Homo sapiens: one gene and its partners. The protein of the gene in region 3 purifies or fractionates together with the protein of the main gene of each other region. This does not show direct contact. Each region holds a gene or a part of one and is shown on either strand. Other genes may lie near its edges. The genes, in order: LMTK2, EPDR1, SLC34A2, SLC30A7, CNTN1, ZDHHC18 and ATP6V1A.

Evidence for each region.
Region 1: the proteins of SLC34A2 (region 3) and LMTK2 purify together in Homo sapiens (affinity purification with mass spectrometry; 3 studies listed by BioGRID and IntAct, with this or other methods). This does not show direct contact.
Region 2: the proteins of SLC34A2 (region 3) and EPDR1 purify together in Homo sapiens (affinity purification with mass spectrometry; one large-scale study listed by BioGRID and IntAct). This does not show direct contact.
Region 4: the proteins of SLC34A2 (region 3) and SLC30A7 purify together in Homo sapiens (affinity purification with mass spectrometry; 2 studies listed by BioGRID and IntAct, with this or other methods). This does not show direct contact.
Region 5: the proteins of SLC34A2 (region 3) and CNTN1 purify together in Homo sapiens (affinity purification with mass spectrometry; one large-scale study listed by BioGRID and IntAct). This does not show direct contact.
Region 6: the proteins of SLC34A2 (region 3) and ZDHHC18 purify together in Homo sapiens (affinity purification with mass spectrometry; 3 studies listed by BioGRID and IntAct, with this or other methods). This does not show direct contact.
Region 7: the proteins of SLC34A2 (region 3) and ATP6V1A purify together in Homo sapiens (affinity purification with mass spectrometry; one large-scale study listed by BioGRID and IntAct). This does not show direct contact.

What each region holds. Positions count from the first base shown.
Region 1 is NC_000007.14:98,200,862-98,204,361, reverse strand, and holds part of LMTK2 (serine/threonine-protein kinase LMTK2 precursor), read right to left. Parts: intron 789-3,500; coding exon 656-788; intron 419-655; coding exon 176-418; intron 1-175. UniProt on the Homo sapiens protein: Phosphorylates PPP1C, phosphorylase b and CFTR.
Region 2 is NC_000007.14:37,927,140-37,930,639, forward strand, and holds part of EPDR1 (mammalian ependymin-related protein 1 isoform 1 precursor), read left to right. Parts: intron 1-3,500. UniProt on the Homo sapiens protein: Binds anionic lipids and gangliosides at acidic pH.
Region 3 is NC_000004.12:25,658,851-25,662,350, forward strand, and holds part of SLC34A2 (sodium-dependent phosphate transport protein 2B), read left to right. Parts: intron 1-3,500. UniProt on the Homo sapiens protein: Involved in actively transporting phosphate into cells via Na(+) cotransport.
Region 4 is NC_000001.11:100,899,090-100,902,589, forward strand, and holds part of SLC30A7 (zinc transporter 7), read left to right. Parts: intron 1-3,500. UniProt on the Homo sapiens protein: Zinc ion transporter mediating zinc entry from the cytosol into the lumen of organelles along the secretory pathway.
Region 5 is NC_000012.12:41,027,939-41,031,438, forward strand, and holds part of CNTN1 (contactin-1 isoform 1 precursor), read left to right. Parts: coding exon 1-31; intron 32-1,124; coding exon 1,125-1,281; intron 1,282-3,500. UniProt on the Homo sapiens protein: Contactins mediate cell surface interactions during nervous system development.
Region 6 is NC_000001.11:26,847,188-26,850,687, reverse strand, and holds part of ZDHHC18 (palmitoyltransferase ZDHHC18), read right to left. Parts: intron 2,081-3,500; coding exon 1,931-2,080; intron 388-1,930; coding exon 250-387; intron 131-249; coding exon 82-130; intron 1-81. UniProt on the Homo sapiens protein: Palmitoyltransferase that catalyzes the addition of palmitate onto various protein substrates, such as CGAS, HRAS and LCK. Acts as a negative regulator of the cGAS-STING pathway be mediating palmitoylation and inactivation of CGAS.
Region 7 is NC_000003.12:113,750,035-113,753,534, reverse strand, and holds part of ATP6V1A (V-type proton ATPase catalytic subunit A), read right to left. Parts: intron 1-3,500. UniProt on the Homo sapiens protein: Catalytic subunit of the V1 complex of vacuolar(H+)-ATPase (V-ATPase), a multisubunit enzyme composed of a peripheral complex (V1) that hydrolyzes ATP and a membrane integral complex (V0) that translocates protons.

The DNA of each region.
Region 1 (3,500 bases), on a different chromosome or scaffold from region 3:
GCAGGAGTCACTGCACCCAGCTGATGATGGGAGTTTTATAAAAACAAGTTTGTAATCTACTCAGCAAATGTGAAGAAGACATGAGATTATCAGGCCTGCAAAACCACCATCTCCCAGCTGCAGCGCCCCACCCCCGACCCTGCACTCCCAATCCCCAGCACGCAGCGCCTCTCACCGCCCTGCTCGATGTCCGAGTCGGTCAGGTGTGTGAGGGAAAAGCTGGCAATGTTGGCGGGAGAGATGGAGAACCGGGAGTAAGGCGCCGAGTGCGGCCAGCTCTGCTCCGTGCTCCGGGCCGGTGGCGGCGGAGAAAAGTACTTGGATGTTTGGAGAGAAGGCTTGGAGCTGAGCAGGTTACTTGTTGTCTTTGACATAAAAGGATCTGGGGAGAAGTCATCATCCCACTCAAAGCCACCACCTAGAAATAAAAAATAAAACCCCACCCTTTTTATCACTGCGTGATGAGGGAGAGGGGGAGCCTCTGGGCAGGTGCGCCCTGCAGGTCGGAAGACACAGCCCGGCCCGGCTGGCAGATGGCAGTTCTGTGCCCATGTCAGGGGGCGTCATTAAAGCAACATGGGAAGTTACCCTCAAAAAACCTTTACATTACTCAATTTTTCAGTTTCCTTTAAAACTAGACAATGACGTGAAATACCTTCTTCGTCGGTGGAGCTTTCGGAGTTGATGCACCTGCTCAGGTAGGGAGAGCCTGAGGCTGGGGCTGGGCCGCTCAGGTCCGGGCCGCACGCCTCTCCTCCACAGGGCCCCAGCTCTTTGGTTGGGGTCTCCTGAAAAGTCAAACAGAAACTCCTGTCAGCAAAGGCCTGCTCACGGGAACCCCCCGTGTGACCGCTTCCCCACTGGCAGGCGCATCAGACTCATCGACTGAGAAGTAAGCGTCTCAAGACAAGGGCGGCTCCAGGCCTGGGAGGACGGACAGACACTAGGCCCTGTCTCTCCCTCTGCCTGCAGCTCTGACCTCGGCAGAGGCATGAAGCAGCCCTCTGAGGCTGCAGAGAAGCGCAGAGCAGCAGGCAGGCGGGCACGAGCGGCAGTGCTCAAGGTGCCACCCACCAGCAACAAGTGTGTCGGCTTCTCCTCCACAATCCCCCGCCTGGACTCAGGTCAGCCCGGAATCCAAAGTGGGCACTGCCCTGGACACAGTGCTCCAGGAGAAGCCCTTGGTTCTGGCTTCGGAGCAGGAAGGGGGTCTTCTGATGCTCAGAAAGAGAAGGGGGAATTCCAGCTTTCTTCTTTTCTCTGTTCTCTTGCTCTCCAGTCTCAAGCAATCCTGGGGCAACAGCTGCCTATAATCCTGAGGGCCATGAAGCCTCCTCTCCACTGGAGGACTGTGATCACGAGCGGGAGGGGACCCTCGCTGAGTTTTTTTCCCTTCTGTCCTCCCACTGCTTGGCTCCAGATGCGCGTGCGATTGCAGGAAGTATGGCACATCGTGTAACTAAAGCCTCAACTTTCTAGCTAGGGGACCAGAAAGCAGAGGCCCAAAGAACTGCAAGTATCAGGGACATCACAGAAGAGGGAGGAGCTCAAAAAGGTGACCCGATGAAGTTGCTGGGGGGCTCCTGGGCTGTGTGTGGTAGATCTGACTCTGAACACACCCAAGCTTTGAAAATGAACCTCAGGGGAGACCGGGGTGGGGTGCGGGGCACACACGTGGGGCAGGTTCAAACAGCACAGCGAAGGCTTTGAAAGGGGAACTGGGAGCTGACACTGAAACCACAACCCACAGAAGGCTGCTTGGAGCTTGTGGCCTGCACCCACCGGGTCAAGGCCTGCTAAGGTAAAAGTATCAACATGATTCACAGCATTTACACATGGCACAGACTGCCTAACATGATAGGAGGATCCAAAAGCTAAAATTACTTCACATACAAAAACCAGGAACACCTCAATTTACCTGGGAAAAGACAATCAACAGGTGCCAGTGTCACCGTACCACAGATGTTGGAATTATCTGAAAAAGGACTATTATAAAAATGCTCCTACAACTAAGGGGAAACACTCTTACCATGAACAGAAATAGGGAAAATCTTAGCAAAGGAACAGATGATAAGAAGAATGACAAAAAGCAAAACTCAGAAAAGAAAAGTATAATAACCAAAATCTAGCAATTCAATGGATGGGCTCAACAGCATAATGGAGATGACGAAGGAAATCATCAGGGACCTTGAAGACAGAGCAACAGAAATCACCCAATCCAAACAAGAGCAAGAAAAAAAAAACCTGGAGGAAGAAAGGACCAGAGCCTCAGAACCTATGAGAGAATACACAGGGTCTAACCCTGGAGTCCCAGGAAGAGAGGAGACAGGGCGTGGGGCAGAAAAAGTACTAGAAGAAAAGAATGCCTGAAAACTTCTTAAATTTGGTGAAAGATACAAAACTACAGATTTAAGTTTAGCAAAACAAAAACGGGATAAATACAAAGAAATTGGGCCAGGTGGGGTGGCTCACAACTGTGATCCCAGCACTTTGGGTGGCTGAAGCAGGAGGATCCCTTGAGGCCAGGAGTTCAAAACCAGCCTGGGCAACACAGTGAGATGCTGTCTCTACAAACAATTTAAAAATTAGCTAGGCGTGGTGGTGCACGCCTGTAGCCCCAGCTACTCAGGAGGCTGAGGAGGGAGGATCACTGGAGCCCAGGAGTTCAAGGGTGCAGTGACCTATGATCGTGCCACTGTACTCCAGCTAGTGACAGAGCAAGACTCTGTCTCAAACAAAACAAAACAAAACAAAACAAAACACACACACGAAGAAATCCACCCTCAGATGCACCATAATCAAACTGCTGAAAGCTAAAGACAAAGATTTGAAAGCAGCCAGGGATAAAACATGTATTACAGCTTGAGCATCCCAAATCGGAAAACCAAAAATCCAAAATGCTCCAAAATCCAAAACCTTTTGAGCGCTGACATGACGCCCAAAGTGTTCACTGGAGCACTTGGGATTTCAAATTTTCAGATTTGGGATGCTGAACTGGTGAGTATAATGCAAATATTCCAAAATCTGAAAAAATCAGAAATTTAAAATGCTTCTGGTCCTAAGCATTTCAGATAAGGGACGCTCCACTTGTACTTCTAGGAGAAGAATGATCTGAGTGACTGCAAATTTCTCATGAGAGACCGTGGAGGGTGGAAGGAAGGGATACATTTTTAAAATGCTGAAAGAAAACAATTATCAACACAGAATTCTACACTCAGAGAAAACAGGCTTCAGGAATGAGTGTGAAATAGTCTTAGATGGAAAAAAAAACTAAGAGAATTTATTTAAAAATAAAAGGAATCCTGCAAAAAAATGGGTTTTTAAAAAAAAGAGAGAAAAGAAAAGCTAGTTAAATTTCTTTAATTAGAAGGGAAAGGGTTCCAGAAGGAAACCTAGAACATCAATAATGAAAAAGAACAGAAGGACAGGAGGCCCTCCAGATCAGAGAGTTCCACATCCTCAGAGTCAACCAACCAGGACAGAAAACATTCAGAAACAAC
Region 2 (3,500 bases), on a different chromosome or scaffold from region 3:
GAAGTTAGAACCTGTGCTCTGGTCATGCTCAGTGCTATCAGGTGGCACTGCTACCAGGTCCTCTCAATGGACAAAGCAAGGGGTGTTAAGTTTGAATACACACATCCCTCCCCACACACACTCATACATATATACACATTTACATCTATATTTATTTCTGAACCTCCAGTTCTAATCCATACAGGTGTTTAAACTGATGCCTTCATTCTAATCCAACACTACATGGTTCATTCTAGTTTTTTTTTTCCTTTCATTTTTGCTACTCCCTTCTCAGCCAGTGAGAAAACTGGCTTACTATTCAATTGCAGTAGGTAACCAGTCATGTATCATTACGCTGTCTCCTTCACACATGGGCTCTGCGCTCCAGGCCAGCCCATGTAGAAGCCTATCTTCCTTGGTCCTACCTAGTGGCTTTAGTCTAAATTGTTCAAGAGAAAGGAGTAGATGAAATTATGTTCTTAACATATGTTTGTATTGCTTTTGGATTCTCAGTATGTCATCATTACAAATCCTCAGAGGGTGTTTCTGTGTGACTGGGGGAGGCAGACTAATATAAAGTGCTCAATAAATCTATTTGATCATGAATCTTGTCTTGCATGGATTGGATTTTCATTTTAAGAAATCACGACTTTGTGAATATTAAGAGCATGACTTCTCCTTTGACCTTTACTCCATCATTTTGGTCTCAGATGGCTGGAGATAGCATATTCTTTTGTGAGCTGAGGAAGTCTTGACTGCTTGTGGCCTCCTGATCCTCAAAGAATAAACCATACTGATTTGCAATACTTGAGTTTCGCAATATTTGAGTTTTTCTTCAAGAAACAGATTTTCTTGGAAGCACACAAAGTTTGATTTAAGGGACTTAATTCAGTGTGTCTATAGACCCTGGATTTCAGACAATTAATGCTGAGATGGGGAGGGAGAAGCAGGCACTGGGGAAAAAAGATCCAAAGAAGATAAGCCCAGGAGAGTAAGGAGGCTGATGGAATGTAAGACAAATTTACGAATGGAAGCCAGAGGTGGTCACTATACTGCTTTGAAAACATCTTTACTTTCTCCAATAACCTTGAGCTGTTTCTTCCTGATTCTGACCTTGAGGATGGTGGTCAGGGGCAAAGTGCCCAAAGATCTGAAAATATTCCACCAATTAGTGGTTTGTTTTTCCTGGAATAAATATGATAGTCTTAGATTTCACCAATTCCAGTAAAAAATTTCTATTTTCCCCCTTAACATTTTCTTTTATTTTACCCATCTTTAAATAAAAAAAAAAAACTTCTCTTGATCTTACCAGCTGAAATCTCATTCTCCTCTTCTATTTAAAGCAAATCTCATGCTAACTACAATTTTTGTACTCCCATGCTCTCTTGAACACCCTCCAATCACTTTTGTCACCATTCTATTGAAAATACTCTGGTCAAAAGCAAGAAGCTCTACATTACTAATCAACCAATCTTTGATCAGTCCTCATCTTATTGTAGATTAATTCCCCAATCTTGATGCACTGTCTTCACTTGGCTTTCAACATGCTAGTCTTCTGGTTTTCCTTCTCCCACCTTATTTCCTCTCCTCAAGCCTTTTTGCTCTTTCTGCTCTTCTCTGGACTGCTAATAGTGGACTCTCCCAGGGCTCAGGCTCTCATCTCTTTATGTTCCTACCTATACCCTAATTTTGATATATACTGAATCTGACCATACCTCTACTGTTATTCTGGCCCAAACTTTTATTATGTCTCGGCTGGATGTTTATGATAGCCTCCTAACAGTTGTCCCCACTTCGGACCTTGCTCCCTTTAGTCTGTTCTCCACATAGAAACCCCAGGGGTTCTCTTGAAAATACGTCATGCCACTTCTTGGCTCAGGATCTGCTCCCCAGCCTTTTCCCTACCTTATCTCTGTCACCAGCTCACTCATTGTGGACCTGGCCTCAGCACGCTGACCCCATTGGCACTTGAATCTGTCATTCCCTCTGCCTAGAAAGACTTTTTCCTAAGAAGCTGCATGACTTACTCCCAAATTGAACTGTTTCTCTGCTCAACATTCTCAGTGCCCCCTCACTGCTTTATATTAATATATCCAAGGCACTTATGACTATCTGGCAGAGTGTTTAACGTTAAAGTTTGTTCCTTCATCTCCCCCACCTTCCCTCATGCACAATAAGGCTCCGTAAGGCCAGGGGTTTTGTATGGTTGTTGCTGTGTCTCTAACTCCTCAGAACACTTTACATTCTTTTCAACATACTATGTGGGACCTAAACGAATACTTGTCCCATATGAAAAGAGCTGTGTTCTGATGTCGGAGAAGGCGATTCCCAAGCTCCATTTTCTAACTGCTAAGAGCAGGGCCTGACTAATTTTTATTTTTTTTTGAATCAGTGAATGAGGGAAATGAATAACTGATAATATACATTCATTGTAGAAGGATACCTAAATAATAGATATGTATTTTCTTTCCTTTTTTCCTTATAATTAAATTTCTTAGACAATAAAATGATAGATTTATGTAATGGTTTCATGGTTTTTCATTTATATGTTACGTTATACCTCTTTTCTGTTAAGAATGATTTTTGACATCGAATTACACTGCAGTGTTTTGAAAAGTTTTCCAGTAGGGTTGAAGTGGAGGGCACACCACCACCTCCAGAGAGTGGATGCCCCAAACTCCTTTCGCCCATGAGCCACTCCCCCACTGCCCTCTCATCAAACACTGTCTTCAGTGTCTCTCTTGTGCCTCAATTTCAATTTTGGGGAATTTCACCCAATGTGGGCATTTGAGATTTATTTCTAAAGCACCCACAGTTTCTCAGAAGCAGTGCCTTTTTGAGTCGGGAGGCCATCTGAAGAGGAATCAGATCCTTAGCAGGGTGCCTAAGTTACCCTCAGTCCCCCCAAAGAAAGGAGAAACTCTTGGGATGATGGCTCCCCTAAAGAAGGCAACTTCTCCTGGAGGAAAAGGATATACATGCCTTGGATGACTCCTGCCCGCTCACAGAAGGCTGCTTTTGTTGTGGCTTAAAGTTAGATCTTCTGGTAGAGTTCTAGAATGTGGGCCCTGCCGATGAGTGACAGCCAAAAGCTCACCTTGGAAGAGGCACCAGAGTCACAGCCCCAGCTCTCTCAGGGAAGACGCTGCTCCAGAGCATCTCAGAAGCCACCAGGGAAGACAGTGGCAGATGGGAAGCCGGTGGTGCAGGGCCAAGGGCACAGCTCTGCCTGACGCAGCATTGTCAGCAATAGGTAACATATAACTTATGAGGAGTATCTGAGTACCAGCAGGCACTCTTGGGAGTGAAGGATGGGGGAAGAGAATCTGCCCCAGACTTCATATCCATTGGAAATGCCACATCAGGTGCTGTATCTTGGCATGGATTGTGTTTCCTGTAGGTGTGGGAGTTCTTCTTCTCACAGTCAAGCCCTCCACCTGTCCCTTGTCACACACCCTGTCCTTTTGAATAGAAATTCTCATCCTAGCCCAGCTTCAGGCACGGCCTGGCTTACCCTTGGA
Region 3 (3,500 bases):
AGGGGCTCAGAGCTCCAGGGTACATTCTCTGCCTGCACCATTTAATACCCACCCCCACCCACCCACCCCACCCCCACCACCCTCCCCTCCTGCTCATCCATTGCAACATTCTTGGGCGGGCATTTCCAGCATCTGAATGATCATGTGGGAGTGACCTGCAGACATGCCAATCTAGCCAGCTATCCGAAAACACTCAGAGCCCTCAATGTGCCTAGACCTAAGGCCCCTGGGTGCCCTGGTGCTTTGAGGGCTGGAGAATTTCTCCTCCCTTTGCCCCTGGCTGTGAGATCTGTGGAAAAGCTTCTGGCTTTGGAGCCAGCAGTCTTGGGTTCATATCCTGACACCAGCTCCAGGTAGTTGGAGGCAAGCTTCTTTGTTTCTCTGTGCCTCAGTTTCTTTGTCTGTACACTGAGAAGAAAAACTCCTTCCTTGGTAGATTTAATGAGGTCACAAACTGTATAGGACACTCCTCTGCCACAAAACAAACATTAGCATCTTTCTCTCACAGGCTTTGGATTCATTTATTCAAATATTAACTGAGATCCACTACCATGCTGAGCATTGGAGATGAAGAGCTTATAGTCTAGGGTACACACAGTGGAAATGAGGCCATTTACTGTTCATGACACAGTGCATTTCCACGTAATAAACACTCTTGTTTATTGTTCATGACACAGTGCATTTCCACATTGTGTCATGAACAATAAACAAGAGTTCCGAGTGTTTACTCTGCCAGGCACCATGCTCTAGCCTCACCTACACTTATTAACCAATTAGTCCTCATAACAGCTCAGTAAGCAAGATGGTATTGTCCCCATTTTTACAATGATGAAGCTGAAGCTCAGAGTGGCTCAGGGTTGCATATAGTGAGGGGCAGGCCTCTGCAGAGCCAGCCCTCCCTCACTGTGATTCGCCTCTCTCCAGGTATCACTGAGCCATCTTACCTTTGTGAGCTTAGAGGTTGAGTTGCATCTTTTAAAATAATTTTCTTCTAAAATTTAAAAAATCACCCACAGTCTCACCACTCCCTTTTACCTCCAGAGAACATTTCTGGATCTTGTCTGCCTTGTTGAGATGATGCTGTGAATGGGAAAAAGAAGTGCTTTAGATGTGAAGTTTATCTAAAGCATTTCCCTATGGTTTTACTGATTCAGTATAACCTCTTTAATGGCATGCTCTTACAATGCATGGACATACCATAGTTAGAAGGAGTAATTTCTCTTTTTTCATTTTTTCACACTGTAAATGATAGAGCAGCAAATATCTTTTTGGTCTACATCACATTCATTCTATCATAAATATGCCCGGCAGGGCTCAAGACCTTAAAGATGAAGTGATGGACAAGACAAAGTCCACTTTTTGGTAGGGTTTGCAGTCTGGTAAGCAGGAAATAGGTTGACGAAGAAAGGAGTCAGGTGGACTCAGGCTCTAAGAAGCCCTCTTGGAAGAGGTGATCAGAGTAAGTTAGGTATTTCTGAATTTCTGAGAGGAAATATTCCTAGCTTCCTGATTCCTAGAAGTGAAATGACTGGGTCACAGACGTGTGATGAACATAAGGCACTTTGGACAGTTTGCTAACTTTTCCAGAGCTTCTAGCAGTGTTCAACTCATAACATCTTCTCCAGCATAGCATAATGAACTTAAATTCTTTTTGCTACTTTGATAGTTGTCACTGTTTTAGTTTGAATATATGGGATTGCTTCTGTTTTTTTGAGACGGAGTTTCACTCTTTTTGCCCAGGCTGGGGTGCAATGATGTGATCTCAGCTCACTGCAACCTCCACCTCCCAGATTCAAGTGATTCTCCTGCCTCAGCCTCCCGAGTAGCTGGAATTACAGGTGCATGCCACCACGCCTGGCTAATTTTGTATTTTTAGTAGAGACGGGGTTTCACCATGTTGTCCAGGCTGGTCTCTAACTCCTGACCTCAGATGATCCACCTGCCTCGGCTTCCCAAAGTGTTGGGTTTACAGGCATGAGCCACTGTGCCCGGCCTGGATTGCTTCTTTTTTAATAGGCATTTTAGCCATTTGTTCCTTTTCTGTGAATTGCCTTTCTCCAATCTTTTGGACTGCTTTGTCTAATGGACAAGGACTAATTGTCTAATGTCAAAGAACAAGGACTGCAAGGACTGGAATGTGAGGTGTGTCAAGTACCATGTAACTGAGAAAGGCCTTGTGAAGAAAATAGATTGTAAGAAGGTCTTTTCTGAAGGCTGAAAAGAATGTGGTTCTAACAAAGGATGATTAATCCAGACAGCATGACATAGTAATAATTGCTGCTATTTATTGGATGCCTCCTCAATGCCAGTCACTTTCTAGACTTTTAATTTCACTATTAGTCTCATAACCCTGCAAGAACTGTTCCATTTTATAGATGGAGAAACTGACACTTTATGCTCAGAGGCATAAAGGGACTTGCCTAAATACACACTCATTAATAGGTGGCACTGCTGGATTTTAAAACCAGGTCCATCACTCTTTTCACAGAAGGCCTGGGTGGTAGGTAAAACACGCAGAAGGTATATGAACACCTGCATATACTTATATATTTTGAGACAGAGTTTTGCTCTGTATCCCCCAGGCTGGAATACAGTGGCATGATCTCAGTTCACTACAACCTCCGCCTCCCAGGTTCAAGCAATTCTCATGCCTCAGCCTCCTAAGTAGCTGGGATTACAGGCACCCACCACCATCCCCTGCTAATTTTTGTATTTTTAGTAGAGACAGGGTTTTGACACGTTGCCCAGGCTGGTCTCGAACTTCTGACCTCAGGTGACCCACCCACCTTGGCCTCCTAAGGTGTTGGAGTTACAGGCCTGAGCCACCTCGCCTGGCCCCTGCATATATATTCACATACACACTAAGTTGTATAAATCTGTTAAATTCCACTGGATAAGGTTTTGCATAGATTTGCAGTGCACTTGTCTTGATATAAGAAGTAGATGGGGTTCCATTGAAGGGTTGTGAGGATTTGGCATGCTATGAGACAACAAAGATGAATGGGCTTGCACCCTGCCTTTTTCTTTTTTTTTTTTTTTGAGAAGGAGTTTCACTTTTGTCACCCAGGCTGGAGTGCAATGGCACAATCTCAGCTCACTGCAACCTCTGCCTCCCAGGTTCAAGCGATTCTCCTGTCTCAGCCTCCCGAGTAGCTGGGACTATAGGCGTGTGCCACCACGCCGGCTAATTTTTATATTTTTAGTAGAGATGGGGTTTCACCATGTTGTCAAGGCTGGTCTCAAACTCCTGACCTCAGGTGATCCACCTGTCTTGGCCTCCCAAAGTGCTGGGATTACAGGCGTGAGCCACGGTGCCCGTTGCACCCTGCTTTTGACTGAAGGAGAGAGTCAAGACAAAAACAAGTTTACGAGATTAAAGGTGGTACATGCAGCTAACTCAACACTGTACGAGGTAGTTTGCTTTAGCGACTGGGTGAGTGTTTGAAGGGGAACCACAGAGGAAATATGGTGCTTAATATGCCACACTTAGGGGGCATAAG
Region 4 (3,500 bases), on a different chromosome or scaffold from region 3:
CTTCAGTGGAACAATAGGTAGTTGTTGTGTGTTTTTCCCCTCAATAAATATCTGCTACCTTTCACCTTCCCACTAGAACGTAAACTGTATTAATGTAGGGATCTTTTCTATCTTATGCAGGCACTTCAGTACATAGCACATAGTGGATGCTTAATACATATTTGCTAAATGAAAGAATGAGGGAATAATTAATGTATGGAATTACACTACCTATACTAAAAATGGTAACTACCCCGTTAAGGAAAAACAGCAATGACAAAACATTAAATTCCATTCTCTCACTCTTAGAAATTGGGAGGAAAATGGTAGAAATTCTATGTGATTTTTCCCTTCCTTCTAGTATTTTATTTTTCATTTACTAATTTATTGTTGAGTAACTGACTAATCTCAAGGTAACATAGTGTAACAATGTGGTTTTGTATCATCTACGGTTAAGTTTGTTTTCAAGTTACAGAAAAACTCTGCACACCTGTAATCTCAGCTACATGGAGGCTGAGACACCAGCATCCCTTGAACCTGGGAGGCAGAGGTTGCAGTGAGCCGAGATTGAGCCACCGCCCCACAGCCTGGGCAACAGAGTAATACTCTGTTTCAAAACAAAACAAAAACCTAAAATAATGGTTGCTTACACAAGATAAAACTTCATTTCCAAGATGGGTGCTAGTGTTTCAGTCATCCCTGGCAGCATAATGTCTGGAATGCAGATAAAAAGAGGTAAAAGGTGTGCACATTTTTTTTTTTTTTAAGATTTACCTGGATGCTAACACACAATGCTTTCACTAAAATTTTATCACATGGTCATGCCTAGTTGCAAATGTAGTCTTTATTCCACTCAGCCATGTATTCTGCGGAAAGTCAAGGATTTTTTACTAAGGAAGAAAGAGAATATGTGGATAGTGTAGGTTTTGGAAGTGGGACTTGAGAGAGAGAGAGAGAGAGACAAACTAACCTGTCATCTTCTATAGTTGGAAAATTGAGGCCTAGAGTTTTTTACTTCCCAAGTGAGCAGCAGAGCCTACAGCACCTATTGTCCAAGTTTGATGTCCAAAAAACATCACACTGGTTTTTTCTAGTATCTCAATATAGTTTCTGTGTTTTTATGTTCTTACATTTTTACTTCATTTTTAACAGATTTAATTTCAGTAGTATTTCTTACCAAAGCTGTTGCAACCATTTTTCCCTTAGACATAGAAGACACTCAGGTAACTCTAAAGGTTAATGTCTTTGTGTTAACAAAGTAAATATTTGTTGAAGAAATGTTTAAGACAATACCAGACATTTATTTGGTTCTACTTCAGTGTGATATTTCACAGCAGATGTTTGTAAAGTAATTCCTTAGTGAAGAAAAATACTTCTATCAATCACATGTTTTTCTATTAAAATTTTCATATATCTTAGTCTTTTAAAATCAACTTTTTCCTTCTCAAAAGGCAGCATTACTTACCAGCTTATGGTGATGGCTTTTGCTTTCCTATAATTTTATTTCCCACCTTAAAAACATAGATAAATATTCCATTTTGCTTAGAATTTTTTTTAAAGTAAGGGACTATATAATGGAATGTAGTGGAGTTCTGGGTTATTTCACTGTAACTCATTTAGTTTATTGACTTTGCTAATGTCAGGATTCTAAGAATTTTCTAATTTCCTGATAATAAATTGACAGTGTTTTTCCCTGACTTTCCACATCATGGAAAGTACCTGGTAAGGGATTTCTGAATTATGATGATTCCTTATTTTCAATTTTGAACACGTTTAACAAACAATATAAATATACCGTTAGCTTAGTTACCAATAGACCTTTTAAACAATTTTTTATCACTGGGTATTTTAAACATATGTAAAAGTAGAGCATTTAATGGACCTCATGTACCCATCACTGAGCCTTAACATTTATCAATACATGGTCTATCTTATTTCATCTGTTGTCCCTGTCCCACCATTGGATTGTTTTAAAGCAGACACAAGATGTAATTTCTTCCATAACTATTTCATTATGCTTCTCTAAAAGATAAAATCCACCCCCCCTTAACATAACCCAAAACCATTATCACCCATGAAAATTAATGACTCATTAATATCCAGCTAACGAGTATTCAGGAGTCCCTCATTGTCTCATAAATTCTTTTTACATTTGGTTTTACAGATTAGAAATCAAACAAGATCCATACATAGTATTTAGCTTATATGTCTCTTAAGTTGCTCTTAATTTATAGGTTCTCTTTCTCCCTTCCTTTGTTTTTGCCTCCAATAGACCCTAAATAAAATTCTTTTCAAAAGTTTCTTTTGCCATATATTCTATTGACATTTGTGCTGTTTTTGCTTCTGTATTTATGTATTCAGGTTTCTCCTTTATACACGTAGAAGTTTTCTTTTTCTTTTTTTTAAGACGGAGTCTTACTGTGTTGCCCAAGCTGGAATGCAGTGGCGCGATCTTGGCTTACTGCAACCTCTGCCCCCTGAGTTCAAGCAATCCTCCTGCCTCAGCCTCCCAAGTAGCTGGGAGTACAGCCACGCCTGGCTAATTTTTGTATTTTTAGTAGATGGGAGTTTCTCTATGTTGACCAGGCTGGTCTTGAACTTCTGACCTCAGGTGATCCACCCACCTCAGCCTCCGGAAGTGCTGGGATTATAGGCACGAGCCACTGCACCCGGCTGGTTTTCCATGTTAAAATGTCTTTAGAAGGTAGTCATTTAAAAGAGTTTACAAATACATTTTAGAGAAACTAGCAGTGCTTAAAGAGGAGTCTACGACAAGTAAGTGGATTTTCACAACCAGCTTTACTTTATCATGGTTTACTGAAGTTACCTTTGGTGTTTCAGTCATGTAACCTTAGGTATTCTCTATGCTACCTTTATTTTTTAAGGAAATTTATAGTTTAAATTTATAGTTTAAATATAATTCATAATCAGAAACATTTGCTAAGATTGAATATGAGCAGTAAAATTGACCTTCCTCATAAGCAATATTTTTACATGTGATAGGTCAGCAGAGAGCTAAAAGTAGACTGTTTTTCCCATGAGTTTGTGTATTTGCAGCTAGGTAATTTTTAAATCATGATATCAAGTTTAAGGGAAAAGATCTCATATTGCAGTGTTTTAAGAGAACATAATGTTCTTCCATCTCAGAAGAGGGAGTAGTTTTTCAGGTAGTCACATTTTATTAAGTACTAAAAATAACATTTTAATGCTAATTAAATTTACTTAAAATTTAAATAAAATTTCATTTTGATGAGTATTAAAATTGCCGTGCTATATCCACACCTCTTTAAAAGGAACCTGACTGCTATTCTGTGCAAAAGGAATTTTTATTTTTATTTTTATTTTTTGCATTATGGCAATATTTGGTTTATGTTGGGTGCATATAAAGTAAATTTGTTGAAAAAAAGGAGTGTGTGTTAGTTTGCTAGTCTGGTGTAATAAAACACCACAAACTAGGTGGCTTAAACCACAGAAATTTATTGTCTCACAGTTCTGGAGATTAGAAGTCAGAGATCAAAGTG
Region 5 (3,500 bases), on a different chromosome or scaffold from region 3:
ATCAAATGAATCTACAGTGACGGGATATAAGGTATATACAAATAGTGATGATTAATGTTTGCAATTCTTGCTATTTCAGTGAAACCCAAGATGGGTTTCTTTTCTTTTTTTGAGATGGAATTTTGCTCTGTCACCCAGACCGGAGTGCAGTGGTACAATCTTGGCTCATTGCAGCCTCCACTTCCTGGGTTCAAGTGATTCTCCTGCCTCAGCCTCCCAAGTAGCTGGGATTACAGGTGCCCACACCCACACCCGGCTAATTTTTGTATTTTTAGTAGAGACAGGGTTTCACCGTCTTGGCCAGGGTGGTCTCGAACTCCTGACCCCAAATTATCCACCTACCTCAACTTCCCAAAGTGCTGGGATTACAGGCATGAGCCACCACGGCTGGCCCCATTCAACTTTCTTATTCTATTTAATAGTTGTAGAGCAGAATCAGATAACGTAGTGCCATGATACATTTTGAAATGGAAAACATTATCTTCAGTGAATTTCAGCAAAATGTTATGTCAAAAGTGTAAGATAAGTAGAATACTTTAAAGATAAAATAGAATAATCAGAGCTTAAGGAGGAGAGAGAACGAAACTATTTTTGTTTGGCAATGATTATGATAGGGTTGCCCAGCACCCAGAAAACTCCTTGATAAACTGAGTTACTGTTTATAAATGAATAAAAAGGAGAAAAGCTTATTTTAAATATATTCTTTATATCACACACTATCACATTTTTCACTGGATACCAAATTTTATGGAAAATGGTAAAAATAAAAATTGAGAGACAATTTTCAGACCATTTCAATATATTTTAAAAGTTCTCATTTTGGACTTTTTTCTTAAAAAGACTCATTCTTTCTATATTTTTATTTTGGGTCATCTCAAAAAATAAAATTCAGATGCTTAAGTCACATCTCCTTGGATAATCCTACAAACTTGCAAAAATCAACTATTGTGAATTGAAACTAACATGATTTTTTTCATCTAGTTTTAAATTTAGTTTTTCCTCTTGTTTTAAATTTATTACTTTTTGTTAATCAAAGTATAAGCATTTTTATTCTGGTTTTAGTGTTAGAGCATTGGCTCATTATTATGACTTTACTGCATATTTACATTTCTGTACTTTATAAGGTACTCTACAGACCTGATGGCCAGCATGATGGCAAGCTGTATTCAACTCACAAACACTCCATAGAAGTCCCAATCCCCAGAGATGGAGAATACGTTGTGGAGGTTCGCGCGCACAGTGATGGAGGAGATGGAGTGGTGTCTCAAGTCAAAATTTCAGGTAAGTGAGTCATTTAAGACACATTTCAACTAAGTACTTGTGAGTTTCTAGACCCTGTGGATTCCCAAGGGTAGGGATAAGCCTGATACACCAGTGTCCATATTTTCCTAAGTAGATTGGACATATCAAGGATTCCCTGAAACTTGGTATTTCTCCTCTTATGAGTCACAAAAGTAAGTCTGTGACATACCACATACTTCTTGATTATTATCTGGATGTCAAAGCACAGTTGAAATCTTTCAGACATAAGACGAACGAGTTTTTGGGATCCAATATACAGTATGGAACATATTAGTTTATTTGATTGTGGTAATCATTATACAATGTATACATATATCAAATCTTCATGTTGTTCACCTTGAATATATTTAATCTTTGTCAGTTAAATATTTTCAAATAAAAAGCACAATTAAAATGGCATAATTTATTGAATACTATATAATACTAGGCTATTATTTAATAATAACCAAACTTCTATCAAAAGGAAATACACTAGGCTATTTTTAATACTCTTATAACTCTTTCACTTGGACTATAGATATTGATATAGTAGTAAAAGAGAAAAACACTAAATTATAGCCCCTTTGTCTTTTCTCTTTCTCTATCTTATCTATTCCTTTTCTACAAACTCTATTTCTCACACCTTTGTTTGATTTGGAAATACATATATTTGAGGCAGTCATTTCTTTTTTTTTATTTCTGGCAATCTGTTATTTAATTTTTGACATATTTTTCTTAACCTATATGCATGATATAGTTTAATTATACTGAATTTCAATAGATGTTAATTTGAGAAATGTATGAGAGGCTTTGACATTACCAGAAGATCCTAGAACAAAGATGATAATAAATAATTTATAAGAAAATTTGGTTAATCTGTACAACAAACCCCATGACACAAGTTTACCTGTATAACAAATCTGCACATATACCCCTGAACTTAAAATAAAAGTTAAATTTTAAGAAAACTAAAAAAAAAGAAAATTGAAAATTTGGTGATTTTGATATAAAGAAATAAATATGCTATATATTAAACCAACAAAAAATCCTTTACCACAATGCCAGAGTATTTAATGGTATTTAATAAATGCTGGCTTCAATTGTATGCCATGTTTTTGTGAAGTTTGCCACAATACATATATACATCCTTTACAAATCAAAATAGAACTTTGATTTTTTTTAGTTTAATCATCAGCAATTTTGTCTTTTAAGAAAATAGAGAAATTACAGAGATGTGAAAGGAAAAGAAAATAATCATGTTCCAAATACCCTAAAATAGCTACTGTTAATGCTTAGTTGAATTTACTTATAGTCACTCTGTATACATATATAATTTCATGTTTCAGCTTCCATTTTTGTAAATTATTTAAAAATTATAAATGATATTCTTTCAAACAAATATGCAAACTCATTAAAGTTTTTTTCTATCATAAATAATACTTTTAGAGTCCATTTTCATAAATTAATCTTTCTTCTGGTTAAATTTAAGACAAAGTGTTTTAGGTTGCTAAATTTCTTCAAAAACACTTACTAATTTCTATTCCTATTATCATTGAGTATAAGTGCTTTTCTCACTGTACCACTCTAATATTATTGTCTTTTTAGTCATTGCTAATTTGACAGGGGAAAATAGAATTTTCTTATTTTTGAAACATTTTCTATATTCAGAACTTTGTCAACATCTTCAATAGTTTTACACTTAGTGGGCAGTTTCACAAAAGGAAATCAGAGGGAAATATGGCCATTATTTCAAGGAAGGTAAAGCACAAATAACTAAATAAATTGCTCTTGAACCCTGGGCCTTCTTTCTCTTGTGTAGAAGCCAGCCACAGCGAGCTTTTGCTCTCTGTACTCACCCTTGGTTCATCATTCCTCACCGAAAGGAGAACCTAGCTTCTGGGATTTAGACTAGAGGTTTTCAGCAAGAGATGATGTAGCAGTGATGGTAACATCAGTTTACCTATCACTAATGGCACTGGTAAATGTTAAACAGTAGAATCACTAGGGATAGGGGAAAGCCCTGTTTATAATGTTTGCCTGTTTCTGTGGTGTAAATATTCTCATTATGTGTGATTTCAAGCTTTCCAAGTGATGTCACTTAATATGGAGCTGTGAAGAGCTACCCAGTAGCACATCATTATATGTAATTGCCACCATACAGGTATAATAAGAACCTAAAAAACATTTGACAACATTATAATATAGTAAAATATTAAGAA
Region 6 (3,500 bases), on a different chromosome or scaffold from region 3:
GATTAGAGGATGAGGCAGGGCACCCACCCAGTGAAGGGACCTCAGTTCCCACTGGAGTGTCCTCTAGCTGACAAAGGATATCTTGCTGGTGTCTCCTTCAGAGTGGAGAGGAAGTTGCTTCCCTGAGCGCCTGGGGAGAAAGAAACAGGAGAGGACAAGCTCAGAGGGACAGTGACTGCTGAAGCTTGCTGACCCTTGAGCTTGCTGGCTGACCCCTTCCACTCCCCACTGCCCTCACCCACAACTCACGCAACGTCAGGTGGGTGACCACACAGGCGAAGATGAAGGCCGTCAGGAATGAGAGGGAGAGAATAAACGCGTAGAAGAAGCGATAGTTCCGTCTCCCCACACAGTTGCCCACCCAGGGGCAGTGATGGTCAAATCGTTCTGGACAAGGGCAAGGGGCGATGGGTTAGTGTGGGCTGGCCTGCAGCCAGCACAGGCATTTGGCGGCCTCACCCATGGCTGGGGCTTTCCTACCCCGTTCACTCTCGCAGCACCAGCTGGCTCCCAGGCCTTGGACACACCTGCCTCTGGTCCTTTGTGTACCAGTTCCCACTGCCTGATACATTCTCTCGTCTCTTTACCTGGTTAACTGGAACTTCTCCTTCGCGTCTCAGCTGCAAAGCCACCTCCTTAAGAAAGTCTCTTCCAATCCCAGACTAGGGGAGGGGGCCCCTGTTATCTGCCCCATCACTTCTCTTTTGTCACACTCTGCCCATGTGTGTTTTTATGCTTATTTATAATAACTGGATTGGCCAATCAGCCCTACTTGACTGTAAGCTCCATGGGCGAGGGGGGCTGTGCTGGTCTTACACCATGCTGACTCCCCAGGATCCAGAGCAGTGCCGGCACAAAGACTCACAAAAATACTTGTCACCTGGTCTACCATCCCAACCACATGCTAACAGTCAACAACCCGTCTCCTGCTCTAGGACTAGCGGCCCAGGGAGGGGCTGAGCTGCAATGGGGTTCACAGCCAGCCAGCATCACAGGCCAGGTCAAAGGGCTGAGCTCACCTGCACACTGTCCCCGGGGGTGGAGGCACACCCAGACTGGTAAAGAAAGTCCTTGTGGGAATGTGGGTCACAAGCCCATTGCAGGCCTCATGCCAAGGCCAGTGCCCTTTGCACGGCGTGGGCGGGGCAGCTCCTTGGGGATGAATGGTGCCCACTGAGTCACCCCCTTCACTGCATGCCGTCACGGGGGGGTGTTCCCTGCTGTTCTCTTGCTTAGGGAGTACTGAGCTGGCATGATGAGCTCACTGCCCTGGGAACTATGCACAGTCACTGTGGCTCAGCTCACCTGGGCCCTCTCATGCATTATTTCCCTTACAACACCCTCTCAGGGTGCCCATCAGAACTACACAGCCTCTGGAGAGCAGGGAGAGGGGACAAAACAACCACTGCAGGCAGCTGTAGGGTCAGGAGCCATTTCCAGTGGTGACATCCTCTGCACCTCATCAGCTTAAACGCCTCTGTTGCTAGATGCTTTTCCCTCTCAACTCTGGGAATCAGATCAAAGTTTTTCAGTACAGCTGGCCCTGGGCCACTGGACAGTAACTCATTCTTTCTGGCCCAAACACATCTGGAATGTTATTGTTCCAGTCTGTTTCCTGGGAGCTTGGACCTCTTGAGGACCGGGCTGAAGCCTGGGAGAAGGGTTCAAAGCCTGTCTGTCTGCCCCACACCTCAGAGCTGGGGGAAGGAATCCACCAATCCTGAGCTGAAGCCAAAACACTCCTGGTTATGCTGAGGGCCCCTCCCCTGGGCCCTCCTGAGTCAGGGCAAATCTGGGTGAACCAGACCCCCTGCCCAGCCCTGGGTATTTCAGACCCTGCCCACGCCATCCCCATGCTTGATGCCCCCCATCCCCACGACTCAGTCTCTCTCAGGAATCCCTGCATCCCTCCCTGCTGCCTCCTACTCACCCACACAGTTGTCGCAGACACTGCAGTGTGAGGTTCGGGGTGGCCGGAACATCTTGCAGGTGAAGCAGTACTTCAGCTTCACCATCTGCCCGTTGATCAGCACCTCCCGGGTCCGAGGGGGTGGCCGGTATGTAGAACTGCCTGTGTTGTCTGAGGGAAGGAGGAGAGAAAGATGGGGAATGCCCAAGGCAGCCCAGGGCCCGGATCCCCAGCAGGGGAAAGCTACTGCTGCCTGGCCAGTCCAGGAGAAGCCTCAGGGTAACAGGTTCCCAGGAACAAACATTGGAGTAAAATGTCTGGCCTAAGGCAGGGACAAATATTAGGAACTGCCACCATGTACTGAGACTGCCTCTGTTCATACACCTGCCGGCCTTACCCACTCTAAGAAGGGCTGTCAGAGAAGGAGACTCCCAGAAAGCTTAGTGAGGGTTTTTTTTTTTTTCCTGAGGCAGAGTCTCACTCTGTCGCCCAGGCTGGAGTACAGTGGCGTGAATCTCAGCTCACTGCAACCTCCACCTCGCAGGTTCAAGCGATTCTCATGCCTCAGCCTCCCGAGTAGCTGGGATTACAGGAGTGTGCCACCACGCCCAGCTAATTTTTGTATTTTTAGTAGAGACAGAGTTTCACCACGTTGGCCAGGCTGGTCTGAACTCCTGACCTCAGGTGATCTGCCCACCTTGGCTTCCCAAACAGCCAGGATTATAGGAGTGATGCACCGCGCCCAGCCAGTGAGGTTTATTTGCATCTCATCAAGCCTAGACCTATGTCCCAGTTTACAGGAGGTTCAGGAGATGGAGGAACAAAGTGAGTAACACAATGAGGAAAAAGTCAGATCTAGAATATGAGACATTTACAAGACTGCTGGCCTGATCTCTAACAAAAGTCAATGTCATTTATAAAAAGAGAGAGGAGGTCGGGTGCAGTAGCTCACACCTGTAATCCCAGCACTTTGGGAGGCTGAGGAGTGAGGATCACTTGAGCCCAGGGGGTGAAGGCTGCAGTGAGTCAAGATCACGCCACTGCACTCCAGCCTGGGCAACAAAGCCAGAACCTGTCTTAAAAAAAAAAGAGAGAGAGAGAAAGAGAGGCAGAGAGGAGATGATTCTAAATTAAAAGCGATTTAAGAGACATAAACAAATGCAATACATCATGGATCTTATTTTGAAAAACAAAACAAAACACAGCAACAAAAGACATTTGGAGGGCAACTGTGGAAATCTGACTACAGATTAAAAACTACGAAACAGGCCGAATGCAGTGGCTCATGCCTGTAGTCCCAGCACCTTGGGAGGCCAAGATGGGAGGACTGCTTGAGCCCAGGAGTTCAAGATGAGCCTGGGCAAATAGGAAGACCCTATCTCTATAAAAAATGACAAAAATTAGCCGGGTATGACGGCGTGTGACTATAGTCCCAGCTACTAAGGAGGCTGAGGTGGGAGGATCATTTGAGCCCAGGAGTTCCAGGCTGCAGTGAGCATGAGCCAGGATCACTCCATTGCACTCTAGCCAGGGTGACAGAGCAAGACCCTGTCTCTAAAAACAAACAAAAATTAGGGAACAATTGGCCAGG
Region 7 (3,500 bases), on a different chromosome or scaffold from region 3:
ACGTTTTTTGCCACTACTAACATTGAAAATTGAAACACTGTTGCAGCTAACACTCCTGTAAACTCTTACTGGTGCTTTTATTTCTAAGGAAAAGATTACATGGAGTTAGACTGATGGGTGGAAAATACATGTATTCTCAGTATTAACTGATGTTGCTTGATTGTTTACTAGGAAAAACTCTAACACTTCACATCTCCGCTAGCATTTTATGAGATAATCCTTCTCCACATATCCCTGCTAGCAGTAGGTTTACCACTTAATTTTTGCTTGTCAGAGAAATAATATTTCATTGTTAGTATATTGATTACTAGTAAGGTTACACATCCTTTACTGTTTGTTGAATGTTTGGATTTCTCTTCTGTGAACTTCTGGTGACATGTTTTATCCATATTTTTACTGGGTGAACTTTTTCTTAATTGGAAAGAGTTCTTTCAATGGTTAACTCATCTGTTACATATATCTCAAGCCTTTTTTTCCGCCTGATTTTGTCTTTGGTCCTTTATTTTTGCCACTAAAGAATCCTTCGTTTCCATGCAGTCTCATGTGTCTATCCATACTTTTATGACTTTTAGGTTTCCTATCTTGGTTTAAAAAACTACATCTGGATTGTTTGTATAAAGGAAATTTAGGAGATTAATATCTTAAATATTTTATTGTTTACATTTAAGCCTCTAATCCATCTGAAATCAGTTTTTGCATCTGTTGCAATGTATTGGATCAATTATATTTTCTTCTAGATGAGCAAGTTGTATCAGTTAACATTTATGATATATATGTGCCCTTTTTCACCATTGGATTGAATTATCCCTTTGAAATGTGGTAAATTATCTTATATACTGAGATTTACTCTGCTTTTTAAAATTCTGCTGCACTTATATACTTAAAATTAAAAATATATTTACACACCTATAAAATTAAATAACTTACTCAGCTACCTGGATGAGACAAAACATTTTCACTTAAGATATCCAAGTAGTTAAGATGAAAGAATTATTTAGGTGCCTTAATTTTCCATATCAAATTAAGAAATATTTTGCAATGCCTACTGACATTATGAATTCAAATATACAGAAGGTATAGTAATAAATTTTAATTTTTTCTTTAATGCATCAATCTAGAGATAATTACTTATTTTGATGCATTTCCTTACAACTTTTTCCATATGTATATACTATTATTATTATACATATGCTCTTTTTTCAATTTTAAAGGTATTTTCCAATTCAATTAGTCTTCTCTATTGTACCTTTAAACATTAAAAAAATTAAACTAAGAACTAAAAACTTATAAAGTCTGGTTGCTTTTCATTGCTCAAGCACATCTGAAACTCTTCTATATCATATCATATACCACCCATTTTATTTTCAGTGAAATAAGCTTAATTATTTTTCAGAAAAGAAACAAAATGTGGCATGTTGCAGATAAAATTTTTTTAAAGGCTTACCAAGAGAACAGTTTCAACAGATAGCATTAAGATCCAAAACTGAAATTTTTGTTGTTAGTCATAATAATACCAAAAATAATAGTGATTTTTAAAACCTTAAGATATAAGAAAGTGTTTCCTTCTAAAATTTAAATCTGAAAATACTTATGATATACCATTAATTTTTAAAAACAGCTAATCACAGTTGTAAATTTATTAACTAGAGCTAACTACAAAGAAATATACAGAAAGAGGAGTTTCAAATGTAAATAAATCATTATTCTAAAGATCACTTCAGTAGTTTCAGGTAAAAATAAATATGTTACTACGAAGATACACAACCACTTCAGCTGTCTTTATATATACATACACACACATTGCGTACTTTATATACTACAAATATTTACTCTATATATAGTATATACATAATATGTATATACTAAATATAAATGAATACACTTATAAAAACCAAAGTCGCTATCATTTCACCATAGGGAAAAAAGAGAATAGCAAAACTAATATTCTCTTCAGAAATTATATGGAAAACATTTTTATTGCTCACATTTCATTTATTTAAAATAAAGTTACTTAGTATAAAGAATAAATTCATTCCTAAATCAATAAATCCATTTGTTATAATAGACAATCAACATTAAGGAAAAGTCAATAAACTTAATAAAATCTTTCCTTAAGACAAATGAGTAATTTTTTTTTTCAGGAATAAAGTGATTCATAAACTCATGATAGCTATACTTACTGTTTAATTTGCTGATATTTTCCATTGCAAAACTACTAACCCTTGTGAATCATGAATTTAAGAAGGGAAGAATTTTACTCTAGTTTATGTCTCCATTATGTTCTCTACATTTCTTTGTCTATTTCATATAAGGATAAAAATAAGATATAAAAACACTTAATTTTTTTAAAAAGACAAAATTTTTAAGCTTATAAGCATTAACTCAAAAGTCCCTGCTCTACAATCTGTACAATTTTAATATACTTCTATAATCCATTGCAGGAATAAAAACTTCAAAATTGAAGAACTGCCTCCTTAAATTTATTCCATACATTAATGATTACAAGCTTTGGAAAATCTTTATATAGAAAATATTAAGACACTGCAGTTGCCCAAATAAGGGACTTTATCTTGATATTTTTCAGATAAAATTAATAAATCTGTTTTAGAATCTTTGCTACAAGTACACTTTTCTTGTTCCCCCATTTTTTGGGTAATAGCTTCTTTTCAAATTCTACTCTCTTCTTCATGCCCCAAACCTGCTGCTCACAGGGACATCAGTCAATTCTGTGGGTTGTCTTAAGTCTTTAGAAATTCAGTATATAAAATCAAAGTAGTTATCAGTAAAATTAATTAAAAATTTTTTTTACAAAATATGTTCTAGGCATTTTACATTCATGATCTAACTTAATAGCACCATCTATAGATTTAAACGTGAGAAAACTTAACCTTACTTAAGTACACTGTCCAAAGTCACACAGTTATTAAGTGGTAGGGCCAGAACTTCAACTAGGTCTCTATGACTGGGAAATCAATTCATGTAAAGTCTGAGCTACACTGCTTTACCATTTTACACACCACTTAGTTTTTTTTGTTTTTGTTTTTGTTTTTTTTGAGATGGAGTCTCACTCTGTTGCCCAGGCTGGAGCGCAGTGGTGTGATCTTGGCTCACTGCAACCTCCACCTGTCGGGTTCAAGTGATTCTCCTGCCTCAGCCTCCTGAGTAGCTGGCACTACAGGCGCGTGCCGCCATGCCTGGCTAATTTTTTTAATTTTTTTAAGTAAAGACAGGGTTTCACCGTGTTAGCCAGGATGGTCTCGATCTCCTGACGTTGTGATCTGCCCGCCTTGGCCTCCCAAAGCACTGGGATTACAGACACCACTTAGTTTTTAAGATATTTTCACATAGATTACCTAGGGTTTATGTCATAGGAAGGTTCCTAAGTATCAAACCTGAACCCCTCCCCAGCATTACGTAAAAGGACATATAACTAAAGTGGCAGAGCTGAATGAAGATCCTCTGACTTTTAGTCTAGTGCTAGTCCACTTATAGATCACGCA